4 linked regions of the Homo sapiens genome follow. The protein of the gene in region 1 purifies or fractionates together with the protein of each later gene. This does not show direct contact. Each region holds a gene or a part of one and is shown in the gene's direction. Other genes may lie near its edges.

The links. The genes of interacting proteins can lie anywhere in the genome.
Region 2: the proteins of LRP1 (region 1) and KCTD18 purify together in Homo sapiens (affinity purification with mass spectrometry; 2 studies listed by BioGRID and IntAct, with this or other methods). This does not show direct contact.
Region 3: the proteins of LRP1 (region 1) and LOXL2 purify together in Homo sapiens (affinity purification with mass spectrometry; 2 studies listed by BioGRID and IntAct, with this or other methods). This does not show direct contact.
Region 4: the proteins of LRP1 (region 1) and SLC25A25 purify together in Homo sapiens (affinity purification with mass spectrometry; 2 studies listed by BioGRID and IntAct, with this or other methods). This does not show direct contact.

Annotation. Positions count from the first base shown.
Region 1 is NC_000012.12:57,208,483-57,211,171, forward strand, and holds part of LRP1 (prolow-density lipoprotein receptor-related protein 1 preproprotein), read left to right. Parts: intron 1-228; coding exon 229-335; intron 336-600; coding exon 601-717; intron 718-1,209; coding exon 1,210-1,386; intron 1,387-1,546; coding exon 1,547-1,687; intron 1,688-1,824; coding exon 1,825-1,998; intron 1,999-2,235; coding exon 2,236-2,397; intron 2,398-2,689. UniProt on the Homo sapiens protein: Endocytic receptor involved in endocytosis and in phagocytosis of apoptotic cells. Required for early embryonic development. Involved in cellular lipid homeostasis.
Region 2 is NC_000002.12:200,500,069-200,503,568, reverse strand, and holds part of KCTD18 (BTB/POZ domain-containing protein KCTD18), read left to right. Parts: intron 1-3,500.
Region 3 is NC_000008.11:23,296,397-23,299,758, reverse strand, and holds the end of LOXL2 (lysyl oxidase homolog 2 precursor), read left to right. Parts: intron 1-811; coding exon 812-923; intron 924-1,636; coding exon 1,637-1,716; 3' UTR 1,717-2,862; downstream 2,863-3,362. UniProt on the Homo sapiens protein: Mediates the post-translational oxidative deamination of lysine residues on target proteins leading to the formation of deaminated lysine (allysine).
Region 4 is NC_000009.12:128,071,232-128,074,731, forward strand, and holds part of SLC25A25 (mitochondrial adenyl nucleotide antiporter SLC25A25), read left to right. Parts: intron 1-3,500. UniProt on the Homo sapiens protein: Electroneutral antiporter that most probably mediates the transport of adenyl nucleotides through the inner mitochondrial membrane.

The DNA of each region.
Region 1 (2,689 bases):
CAGCTCTGCCAGCGTCGGTGGCTCTGAATGAGCACACTGTGGTTTTAGAGGAAAAGCCCCTCAACCTGCTCAGAAGCAGACTCCCGCCTGCTTCTCTGTAGAAGGACAGAATGCCCTCCTCCCAGTCCCCAGCAGTCCCTGTCCCCAGACCAAGAAGCTGGTGTCCTGCCTGGGCCTGCCTCCTCTGGCCCTCCGGCCTGCCCACACTCACCCCTTCTCCCTCCCCAGGACCATGTACTGGTCAGACTGGGGCAACCACCCCAAGATTGAGACGGCAGCGATGGATGGGACGCTTCGGGAGACACTGGTGCAGGACAACATTCAGTGGCCCACAGGTTTGTGGGGCAGGGTGCAGGAGGGACGGGCATGGAGGGGGCCCGGCTCGCAGAGCCCAGCTGCTGCTGAAGTCACACAAAAGCAAGGGATGGGATGGGGCTTGGACTGGGGCAGGGCAGATTGGCCGTGGAGGCTTTTCCCGAAAGAGGTGACTGTGAGTGGCGTATGAACAGGGTGGAGCTGTCCCGGGCATGGAGGCAGTTCTTTCCACCCCGAGCCTGGGTTGGGGAGGCCAAGCTCTCACAGTGCTCTCTCTCTCCCCAGGCCTGGCCGTGGATTATCACAATGAGCGGCTGTACTGGGCAGACGCCAAGCTTTCAGTCATCGGCAGCATCCGGCTCAATGGCACGGACCCCATTGTGGCTGCTGACAGCAAACGAGGTCAGAGCCCGGCATAAGTCGCAGTCCCCAGCCCTGTCCCCAGCCTTGCCATCCTCCCTACTGAGCCAAAGGCCTCACTTCAATGCCTCCCATCCTTTGTCACTGACCCCCAGCAATGCTGCAGCGCCTTCCAGGCCTCTCCAGCTGGCCTCCCCCTGAACCAGCCCTGCAGGCCTGAGACCCACCCTGACCCTCTGGCCTACTTGTCCATTCATTGGTTGGGTTGCACGGAGGCAGCATAGGTACATTAGGAACGTAGCAAATTGGGGGAGAAGGAATAGAAGTCAGTCATGACTGACCCCAGAAGTCTGGGGGTGATGGGACCTTTTGCCAGTAGTGGCCACAGGAGGAGGAACCGGTGTGGGGAGAGAGAATTTGGTCTGGATGTGTTGAGTTTGAGGTGTCTGGGAACCACAGGTGCCAGTGTCGTGGACAGCATGGCCAGGGCCTGAGTGCCCCTCAGGTCCCCTCTGACTCCACCTCCTCCCCCAGGCCTAAGTCACCCCTTCAGCATCGACGTCTTTGAGGATTACATCTATGGTGTCACCTACATCAATAATCGTGTCTTCAAGATCCATAAGTTTGGCCACAGCCCCTTGGTCAACCTGACAGGGGGCCTGAGCCACGCCTCTGACGTGGTCCTTTACCATCAGCACAAGCAGCCCGAAGGTGGGGGCAGAGGGGAGCCTGGGCTGGGGAAGGGAGGCCTGTGGGCATTGAGTCTCCAAGCTGTGGCCCTGGGACCTGGTGGAGAGGGGGTCACCCTGGGCTCACAGGGCTCAGAGAAGGGTCCTGCTCAGCATCCTCCCCACCCCACCCATACCTGCAGTGACCAACCCATGTGACCGCAAGAAATGCGAGTGGCTCTGCCTGCTGAGCCCCAGTGGGCCTGTCTGCACCTGTCCCAATGGGAAGCGGCTGGACAACGGCACATGCGTGCCTGTGCCCTCTCCAACGCCCCCCCCAGATGGTATGCTTATGCCCTCCCAGTCCCAGCCATGCCTCAGGACCATCTCCTTCCTGTGGCTCCTGACTTCCCCTGACCTTGTTGCCTGTCCCTCTCCTCCTATTCCCCTGGCTCTGCCCCTTGACGGGCCCTTCCTGCAGCTCCCCGGCCTGGAACCTGTAACCTGCAGTGCTTCAACGGTGGCAGCTGTTTCCTCAATGCACGGAGGCAGCCCAAGTGCCGCTGCCAACCCCGCTACACGGGTGACAAGTGTGAACTGGACCAGTGCTGGGAGCACTGTCGCAATGGGGGCACCTGTGCTGCCTCCCCCTCTGGTATGCCCCCTCATCCCGCCACGCCTGCTCCTTGCCCCTGGGCCCCAGCCCCGCCACCCACCACCCCACCTCAGGCAAATGCCCAGCCCCTGCCTCGCCTCCAGCCTCCTTTCCACAACCCAGCATCCAGTCACTCCAGTCTCTGCTTCTCGCCCAGGTCCCCCCAGCCCATTCCTCTGCTATAGGGCCAGGTGGTCTCGAGGGCCACAGTCGCGCTCACACATCCTCTCCCACCAGGCATGCCCACGTGCCGGTGCCCCACGGGCTTCACGGGCCCCAAATGCACCCAGCAGGTGTGTGCGGGCTACTGTGCCAACAACAGCACCTGCACTGTCAACCAGGGCAACCAGCCCCAGTGCCGATGCCTACCCGGCTTCCTGGGCGACCGCTGCCAGTACCGTGAGTGAGCCATCCCTGGGCCCCAGGGCATGCGGGAGGGTGACGGGGGACCCCAGAGCATGGGGTGATGTTCAACCTGTGCCTGGGACCCACAGGGGCAAGTTCAGGAAAGAAGGCCTTATGCAGCTGAGCCAGGCCCAAGCTGCTGGCGCTTCCCCACAAAGGTGCTGGCACACTTCCCCTGAGGCAGTGCACCCCCTGCACCAAGATTATGCAAACAGAAAAGCTCTGTTCAACCTATGGAGAGCCCTCATGAGGGTGGGGCTTGAGGCACTTCTCTCCCTCCCCAACC
Region 2 (3,500 bases), on another chromosome or scaffold:
GCTCATCTTCAGAAGTCTCAGCTCTGTAATCTTTTATTCCTGGTTTTTATTCAAAAAGGACACAGCATGCCCACATTCATGCTGTCAGCCAACACATGTTTGTTTCAAGTGCCTGTGACATGTATGGCACTGTACAAGGGGCTGCGTGGGACACCAAGAAATACAACATGTAGTTCTTTGCCCTTGAAGTTTATAGTATAGTTGGGAATTCTTGTAGATGTATGTGTAAGTAAAATTCCAAACCAATATAGGAGTTAGATAGCAATATTAAATGAAAGTGCAAGACATGGTAGGGCCCCATTTTCATTCACTGAGTCAGTAAATACTAGGCATCTCGTTTGTGTCAGGCACTATTCCAGACACTTGGGATATAACAGTGAACACAATATAGTACCTGTCCAGAGTACTTACAGCAGTAAAGCTGTTCCTCCCAGGGAAGGCCCTGGCAGCTTCACTGGGTGAAACCCTTCTGCTCTCTGCCCTGGAGCACCTTGTGGTCTCACTGGTGGCACTTCTTTTTTTTTTTTTTTTTTCTTTTGAGATGGAGTCTTGCTCTTGTTGCCCAGGCTGGAGTGCAATTGCATGATCTCAGTTCACCGCAACCTCTACCTCCCGGGTTCAAGTGATTCTCCTGCCTCAGCCTCCTGAGTAGCTGGGATTACAGGCATGTGCCACCACGCCCAGCTAATTTTGTATTTTTAGTAGAGACAGGGTTTCTCCATGTTGGTCAGGCTGGTCTCGAACTCCCAACCTCAGGTGATCTGCCCGCCTCGGCCTCCCAAAGTGCTGGGGTTACAGGTGTGAGCCCCTGCACCCGGTCCTGGTGGCACTTCTTACACAGGGTGCTGGTGGCTTATTCAATGTCTGTCTTCTGCATTAGCTATAAACTCTGGGAGGACTGGGACCCTGTCTCACCATTGTTCATTGTTATATCTGCAGGACGTTAGAGCTCAGCTCAGAGTAGGAACTTAATATTCAAATGAATGAATGAATAGGTTGATAAGTGCCAAATGAGTTCAGGCAGCATATACGGAGTTTAGATATTGAGTTTACATATTCGTATCTTTCCGTGTAAAAGTAAAATCAATCTGGTTAGTCCATGATTAGAATTTGGAGCTAAAAATAAGGACCAACCATGGGGTTAGTCAGTAGAAGGTGAATGGAAGATTGTGTAAAATGGGAAATTTTGGGGAAATTACTCTAAAGGGAAAAGAAAAAGGTCTACATTTTGGTTATTATATGAAGATTTCTTTTTTTTTCTTTTTTTTAAATTTATTATTATTATACTTTTAAGTTTTAGGGTACACGTGCACAATGTGCAGGTTAGTTACATATGTATACATGTACCATGCTAGTGCGCTGCACCCACTAACTCATCATCTAGCATTAGGTATATCTCCCAATGCTATCCCTCCCCCCTACCCCCACCCCACAACAGTCCCCAGAGTGTGATGTTCCCCTTCCTGTGTCCATGTGTTCTCATTGTTCAATTCCCACCTATAAGTAAGAATATGCGGTGTTTGGTTTTTTGTTCTTGCGATAGTTTACTGAGAATGATGATTTCCAATTTCATCCATGTCCCTACAAAGGACATGAACTCATCATTTTTTATGGCTGCGTAGTATTCCATGGTGTATATGTGCCACATTTTCTTAATCCAGTCTATCATTGTTGGACATTTGGGTTGGTTCCAAGTCTTTGCTATTGTGAATAATGCCGCAATAAACATACGTGTGCATGTGTCTTTATAGCAGCATGATTTATAATCCTTTGGGTATATACCCAGTAATGGGATGGCTGGGTCAAATGGTATTTCTAATACTAGATCCCTGAGGAATCGCCACACTGACTTCCACAATGGTTGAACTAGTTTACAGTCCCACCAACAGTGTAAAAGTGTTCCTATTTCTCCACATCCTCTCCAGCACCTGTTGTTTCCTGACTTTTTAATGATTGCCATTCTAACTGGTGTGAGATGGTATCTCATGGTGGTTTTGATTTGCATTTCTCTGATGGCCAGTGATGGTGAGCATTTTTTCATGTGTTTTTTGGCTGCATAAATGTCTTCTTTTGAGAAGTGTCTGTTCATGTCCTTCGCCCACTTTTTGATGGGGTTGTTTGTTTTTTTCTTGTAAATTTGTTTGAGTTCATTGTAGATTCTGGATATTAGCCCTTTGTCAGATGAGTAGGTTGCAAAAATTTTCTCCCATTTTGTAGGTTGCCTGTTCACTCTGATGGTAGTTTCTTTTGCTGTGCAAGAAGCTCTTTAGTTTAATTAGATCCCATTTGTCAATTTTGGCTTTTGTTGCCATTGCTTTTGGTGTTTTAGACATGAAGTCCTTGCCCATGCCTATGTCCTGAATGGTAATACCTAGGTTTTCTTCTAGGGTTTTCATGGTTTTAGGTCTAACGTTTAAGTCTTTAATCCATCTTGAATTGATTTTTGTATACGGTGTAAGGAAGGGATCCAGTTTCAGCTTTCTACATATGGCTAGCCAGTTTTCCCAGCACCATTTATTAAATAGGGAATCCTTTCTCCATTGCTTGTTTTTCTCAGGTTTGTCAAAGATCAGATAGTTGTAGATATGTGGCGTTATTTCTGAGGGCTCTGTTCTGTTCCATTGATCTATATCTCTGTTTTGGTACCAGTACCATGCTGTTTTGGTTACTGTAGCCTTGTAGTATAGTTTGAAGTCAGGTAGCATGATGCCTCCTCCAGCTTTGTTCTTTTGGCTCAGGATTGACTTGGCGATGCGGGCTCTTTTTTGGTTCCATATGAACTTTAAAGTAGTTTTTTCCAATTCTGTGAAGAAAGTCATTGGTAGCTTGATGGGGATGGCATTGAATCTGTAAATTACCTTGGGCAGTATGGCCATTTTCACAATATTGATTCTTCCTACCCATGAGCATGGAATATTCTTCCATTTGTTTGTATCCTCTTTTATTTCCTTGAGCAGTGGTTTGTAGTTCTCCTTGAAGAGGTCCTTCACATCCCTTGTAAGTTGGATTCCTAGGTATTTTATTCTCTTTGAAGCAATTGTGAATGGGAGTTCACTCATGATTTGGCTCTCTGTTTGTCTGTTGTTGGTGTAGAAGAATGCTTGTGATTTTTGCACACTGATTTTGTATCCTGAGACTTTGCTGAAGTTGCTTATCAGCTTAAGGAGATTTTGGGCTGAGACAGTGGGGTTTTCTAGATATACAATCATGTCGTCTGCAAACAGGGACAATTTGACTTCCTCTTTTTGTAACTGAATACCCTTTATTTCCTTCTCCTGCCTAATTGCCCTAGCCAGAACTTCCAACACTATGTTGAATAGGAGTGGTGAGAGAGGGCATCCCTGTCTTGTGCCAGTTTTCAAAGGGAATGCTTCCAGTTTTTGCCCATTCAGTATGATATTGGCTATGGGTTTGTCATAGATAGCTCTTATTATTTTGAGATACGTCCCATCAATACCTAATTTATTGAGAGTTTTTAGCAGGAAGGGTTGTTGAATTTT
Region 3 (3,362 bases), on another chromosome or scaffold:
CCTGCTGTGGGTCGCAGCCCTTCCAAATGTGGCAGGACCCTCGAGGGAAGGCCTGTCATCTGTGTCCTCTGCCCCTCTGTTCACCACTGTTGTCTCTTCTCCCTCTCCCTCCCTTTCTCTTTTCTCCTCGGGTCCTCACCGTAAACCTCCCCTTTTCTGTTCCCTCACAGACACTCTCCCAGAATATGTCCTTCCTATTCCTGCTGTAGCTGGGGGGATGCGGATACAGGGGTGGGTGGAAGGATGGGGAGAGGGTGCAACTTCTCCAGCAGCCCCAGAGCCAGGCCCTCGGCCAGCAGAGCAGACAGGGACATGGATCCCCAAGTCCCACCTGTCACTTTACAGAGAGAGGAAGGGACATGTCCACAGTCACACGCCTGTGACGAGTGTCCCATCTCCAACGCCCAGGCAGCCCTCTTCCAGGTTCCCACACCGCCAGGTCCTCCCTGCACCCTTCTGCTTCTCTTCAGCATCTTCTTTTTGGGGCCTCCCCAGACCCCAACTTCTGCCTTCCCCAGAACTCCCAGGAGTGGGTGACCCCCTTCCGAAGGCCCACCCTGGGTAGAGGGGTGTGTGTTACACGGATATGGACAGAGGGCAGGGTTTCCCTCTTCCAGGCCATGCTTCCTCTGCTCCCTGACTCATCTCTTCCCCTCCCCAAGGACTTTGTTGAGACCCACAGACCCCCGTCTTGGGTCCCGGCACCTGCCACGCTCCCCTTCCCTGAGGTGCTGGTCTCTCAGAGCCCCAGGCCTGGGTGGAGGTGGCCGCAGAGGGAACAAGCAGCCTCCTCTGCCCTGCTTCTCCCTAGGTTGTTATTAACCCCAACTTCGAGGTTGCAGAATCCGATTACTCCAACAACATCATGAAATGCAGGAGCCGCTATGACGGCCACCGCATCTGGATGTACAACTGCCACATAGGTAAGGCCAGGCCGCCCCCACTCCAGGAAGCAGGCGGGAGCTGCCCTACTTTCTCAAGGACCCAGAGGCAGCTTCCTAATTTGGGTAAAGAGCTCGGGGAATGCAGCCAGCATCACATTTCCACATTCAGGACAGAAGCCACAGACACACAGGCCTGGATGGAGACTGAGTTTTTACAGCCAGCTCCGGCCACGGATAGAGGATGGTACAGGACCAGGCCAGCCCAGTGCAGACCCCAAGGCTTTTTAAGGGTTGGAGCTGAGGCCACTGGCTCATTATGTATGTGACCTCAAAAATGTGGGCATCAGCAATCTGTGGGCTCTGCCTATCAGGTTTTTCTGTCGAGAGCTGGAAGCTAGCAAACTACTGTTATTTCTAGTCTCCAATAAAGACACTTTTTTCCTTGGATGATAGGACTTGGGGAACAAAAGGGAAGGCAGAGCTTTTTCCTCTGCAGGAAAAGTCATGGGCCTCACTCTTGGCAAAAGGTTAAAATTAAAGGCGCTATATTTATTCACTCGTTCACTCAACTTTGACAGAGCACCTGCTATGTGCCCAGCCCTAGAGATGGCCAGTGCCTGGCACCTGTCCTTTTGAGGAGGGCACACACAGGTGGCCCCAGCAGCCCCTGAGGCCCACTCCCCTGGCTCAGGGTCAGGCAAGGCCCGAGCATCTCATTTGTCCACTCTCTCTACCCGATTCTCGCTCTTCAGGTGGTTCCTTCAGCGAAGAGACGGAAAAAAAGTTTGAGCACTTCAGCGGGCTCTTAAACAACCAGCTGTCCCCGCAGTAAAGAAGCCTGCGTGGTCAACTCCTGTCTTCAGGCCACACCACATCTTCCATGGGACTTCCCCCCAACAACTGAGTCTGAACGAATGCCACGTGCCCTCACCCAGCCCGGCCCCCACCCTGTCCAGACCCCTACAGCTGTGTCTAAGCTCAGGAGGAAAGGGACCCTCCCATCATTCATGGGGGGCTGCTACCTGACCCTTGGGGCCTGAGAAGGCCTTGCGGGGGTGGGGTTTGTCCACAGAGCTGCTGGAGCAGCACCAAGAGCCAGTCTTGACCGGGATGAGGCCCACAGACAGGTTGTCATCAGCTTGTCCCATTCAAGCCACCGAGCTCACCACAGACACAGTGGAGCCGCGCTCTTCTCCAGTGACACGTGGACAAATGCGGGCTCATCAGCCCCCCCAGAGAGGGTCAGGCCGAACCCCATTTCTCCTCCTCTTAGGTCATTTTCAGCAAACTTGAATATCTAGACCTCTCTTCCAATGAAACCCTCCAGTCTATTATAGTCACATAGATAATGGTGCCACGTGTTTTCTGATTTGGTGAGCTCAGACTTGGTGCTTCCCTATCCACAGCCCCCACCCCTTGTTTTTCAAGATACTATTATTATATTTTCACAGACTTTTGAAGCACAAATTTATTGGCATTTAATATTGGACATCTGGGCCCTTGGAAGTACAAATCTAAGGAAAAACCAACCCACTGTGTAAGTGACTCATCTTCCTGTTGTTCCAATTCTGTGGGTTTTTGATTCAACGGTGCTATAACCAGGGTCCTGGGTGACAGGGCGCTCACTGAGCACCATGTGTCATCACAGACACTTACACATACTTGAAACTTGGAATAAAAGAAAGATTTATGAAACGTGTCTGTGTTTCCTTTGACCCACAGCACCTGGGCCCTGAGCAGCAGGCTTCCTATGTTCAGTGGCCAGAAGCAGAGCTTCAGGTACATTCGTGGTTTTCTCCGGTGGACATGGGTCCTCAGATCCCCTCCAGCCCAGTGTGGCCACCAGGGCACCTCCTTCAATAGACTCCAAAAGGGGCAGCTCCTACCATCTGGGAGAAGCAATCTAAGGAGATCACAAAAAGTAACGGAACAGGAGTCATAATCTTTCTTGAACTCCTGTGGTTTTTACTGAAACTTGTCAGAAGGCATAGGAGTTGTGCGAGGGCTGGATGGGAAGTCTAGATTTAAACAACAGCCACCAGGCAGCTTATCAAAGCAAGAGGGCATCCGTTCACAGGACAGGGGCTCCCAGCAATTCCCAGTGGCAGTGGGGGGGTGGCTGGCCCATGCGACTCACCCAGACACAGGGGACTTCCCCTTGTGTCAACAGCATGCTAGGGCCCAGCAAACTAGAGGGTAGGTAGGACCACCTTGGCACCAACTCCACTCAAACCACAATTGAATGAGGGCGTCGGCACGCATTCAGATCTCACCTCTTGCCTTTGTTTACATTTATTTTGCAGGAACTGGCACTGACTGACAGGTAAGACCAGGACCAGCCCAGGGGTCCCAGAACTGTCCCACAGCACAGGCCAGAAGGCTGGATACCTGAACTGCCAAAGGAGTGTGGGCAGGTGCTACACAGCAGGTGCAACCCAGCTCCCAAAATTGGGCAGGCTGTGCACAGAGGCCCTGCAG
Region 4 (3,500 bases), on another chromosome or scaffold:
TCTTTCTGGTTTTGAAAGAAAACTTTTATTAACCAAAGAGAGCCTAGCCCCTTGGGGTCACTTTGACTCTAAAATCTTTGACTCCATGACAGATCTAAGTTCTATGATAGGAAGCATTTCTTTATTCTTTTGGTGTGTGGGTTTAGTATAGAGTGTATTTCATTTATTTATCTATTATTATTATTACTTTTCTGAGATGGAGTTGCACTTTTGTTGCCCAAGCAGGAGTGCAATGGAATGATCTCAGCTCACTGCAACCTTTGCCTCCTGGGTTCAAGTGATTCTCCTGGCTCAGCCTCCCTGGGACTACAGGCACGCACCACCACGCCCTGCTAATTTTTTTTTTTTTTTTGTATTTTTAGTAGAAATGGGGTTTCACCATGTTGGCCAGGCTGGTCTCAAACTCCTGACCTCAGATGATCTGCCCGCCTTGGCCCCCCAAAGCACTGGGATTACAGGCGTGAGCTACCGCGCCTGGCCTATTTATCTATTTTATTTTTTTTTGAGAAGCAGTCCGCTCTGTCGCCCAGGCTGGAGTGCGATGGTGTGATTTCACTGAAACCTCTGCCTCCTGGGTTCAAGCAGTTCTCCTGCCTCAGCTTCCTGAGTAGCTGGGATTACAGGCGCCCGCCACCATGGCCCGGCTAATTTTTGTACTATTAGGAGACAAGGGATTTCACCATGTTGGCCAGGCTGGTCTCGAACTCTTGACCTCAAGTGATCTACCCACCTCGGCCTCCCAAAGTTCAGGGATTACAGGCGCGAGCAACTGCACCAGGCAGTATAGACTGTATTTCTACTACTTTTTTGGCTTTTGAACAAATTCAGTTGTTATACAGCTTTGAGATCAGAAATAATTTATTAGCTCATTACCTGTAAAGGAGCACAAGTTAGTCCTGTGGGGAACGTTTGAAGTCTTGGAGAGAAGATCTGCCTTTTTGTAAATAACTGGGCAACAGGAAGACATCCTGCCTCTTGTACCCCCATACCACTTCCTGTTGAATTAGCATTAGTATTAACTGCCTACAGAAAAAGCAGTGCTGAGGCTTTGCAGAACTAGCAGGAGCCGAAAGAGAACTGTGGGGCCCTTTGGGTCAAAATGGGTCATCTGCCATGGGAATAGATGTTGAAGAACACATCAAACTTTGGAAGGTGCTTCCTATGGCCCATATGAAACCAGTGTGAGATGCTGGGGTTTGCACGGGAATCAGCTGTGAGTGCTTATCAGGGGGTGATGGGTAAACCCAGGCCATGTGACTTCACAAAGCCTCTTCTTAGCTTATAACAGTCTGGGTCAAGTTTTCTTTAAAAGTAAACCAGCAAGTTTTGCCATCTGCCTTTGTTTGAGAAGAGATGGGACACTCATAAAAATTGCTTAAAATGGAAGTGGGCAGAGAAACCGTTGGCAGCCAGCCAGGGAAATTTTCTTTGTAAAGGGCATGTAAGCGAGAAGCTTGTTCTGGGACAAAAAAAGGGAAGAGTTCATTAAAGAAGAAAGAAAAAAGATGACGACAACAGTAGTGACTTTGGGAGATGAGACTCAGCCAGAGCTAATTATAGATTGCCTATTTAAGGCATTTTCATGTGACCAAATACAATCTGTGTCTTAAAACAAATTTAAAACATAGGTTAGAACTCAGGCAGCCAATTAGAGGAAGAAAGCAAGCTGTATTCTGTGTAAACAGTTGTCTCTCCAGCTGAGGCTTTGGGGCTCTTGTAAGGGGCTGGTGTTTATTGCAGGTGAGGTTCTAGATGAGCTGCAGTTTGCTCATTTAGAGACTGGCATCCACACCATCTCTTTTGAGCCCCACAAAAATTTGTTAAGTAAGCAAGTCAGTAAAATGATTTTCACTCCATTTTACTAGGGAAGGAACAATGGTTCAAAAAGACAATGGAACAACCTCAAAGATCATTTGATCGCAAGGAAATTGGACCAGAGAAGGAATTGGAACCATCTTCTGATTCCTGCTCCTCTCCTCCTTAACACAGTTTTTTTCAGGAACATGAAGAGAATTCTCAAGTTCTTTTGGGGAAACTTGAGAAAGAGGAGGAGAGATAATTTAGAACCACATATTTTGCTCCCAAAGTATAGGTTTCAAGATTATCCAGTTTACCCTGTCAAAGAACAAGAATCCGCCCTCCCCCATTTCTCTCCCTGACCCGAGCAGTGCACATGAGGCAATCCCTATTGACTTGAAATTATTGAATGGAGATCAGTAATGTCAAGTTGGTATTGCTTAATCAGACAGACTGTTGAACTCTATACTTTTTAAATGTTTGGCCATTTGTGGATGTTTATCAAAAGAGCCAGACTTAGATAAGACAGTCTACAGAAGAAAGCTCCTTTCCAAGAGATAGACATTATTCGCTATAATATAATGGCCCTTTAGGAAAAGAAAAATGCTTTTCACAGATTGGATTAAATTCATATATTAAACTAATTGTGTTATATTGTTGCATAATCGGTCCCTGGCTCAAAGTCATAATTATCAAGTCAACTAGAATACTTTTTTTTTTTTTTGAGACAGAGTCTTCCTCTGTCACCCAGGCTGGAGTGCAGTGGCGTGATCTCAGCTCACTGAAACCTCTACCTCCCCGGTTCAAGCAATTCTTTGCCTCAGCCTCTGGTGTAGCTGGGATTACAGGCCTGCGCCACCATGCCCTGCTAATTTTTATATTTTCAGTAGAGACTGGGTTGCGCCATTTTGGCCAGGCTGGTATCCAACTCCTGGCCTCAAGTGATCCACCTGCCTCAGCCTCCCAAAGTGCTGGGATTACAGGTGTGAGCCACCATGCCTGTCCTTGAGAAGATTTTTTTGTGTGTGTGTGACGGATTCTCACTCTGTCACCCAGGCTGGAGTGCGGTGGTGCAATCTCGGCTCACTGCAACCTCCACCTCCCTGGTTTAAGCAATTCCCCTGCCTTAGCCTCCCAAGTAGCTGAGATTACTGGTGCACACCACCACGTCAGGCTAACTTTTTTGTATTTTTAGTAGAGACAGAGTTTCACCATGTTGGCCAGACTGGTCTCGAACTCCTGACCTCAGGCAGTCCGCCCACCTCAGCCTCCCAAAGTGCTGAAATTACAGGCGTGAGCCACCATGTCCAGCTGAGAAGATTTTTTTTTAATAAGTTGATATTTGGAAAGATGCAGTCCCATACCCTGATCCTAAAACCAAGTAACAAATAAGAATAGGGCTGGGTGTGGTGGCTCATGCCTGTAATCCCAGCACTTTGGGAGGTCGAGGCAGGTGGATTACCTGAGGTCAGGAGTTCAAGACCTGCCTGGCCAACATGGTGAAACCCCATCTGTATTAAAAATACAAAAATTAGCCGGGCGTGGTGGCACACGCCTGTAATCCCAGCTACTCGGAAGGCTGAGGCAGGAGAATTGCTTGATCCCAGGAGACGGAGGTTGCAGTGAGCTGAGATCGTGCCAACACGGGCCTGGCCGACAGAGCCAGACTCTGTCTCAAAAAACAAAACAAAACAAAAAAGAAC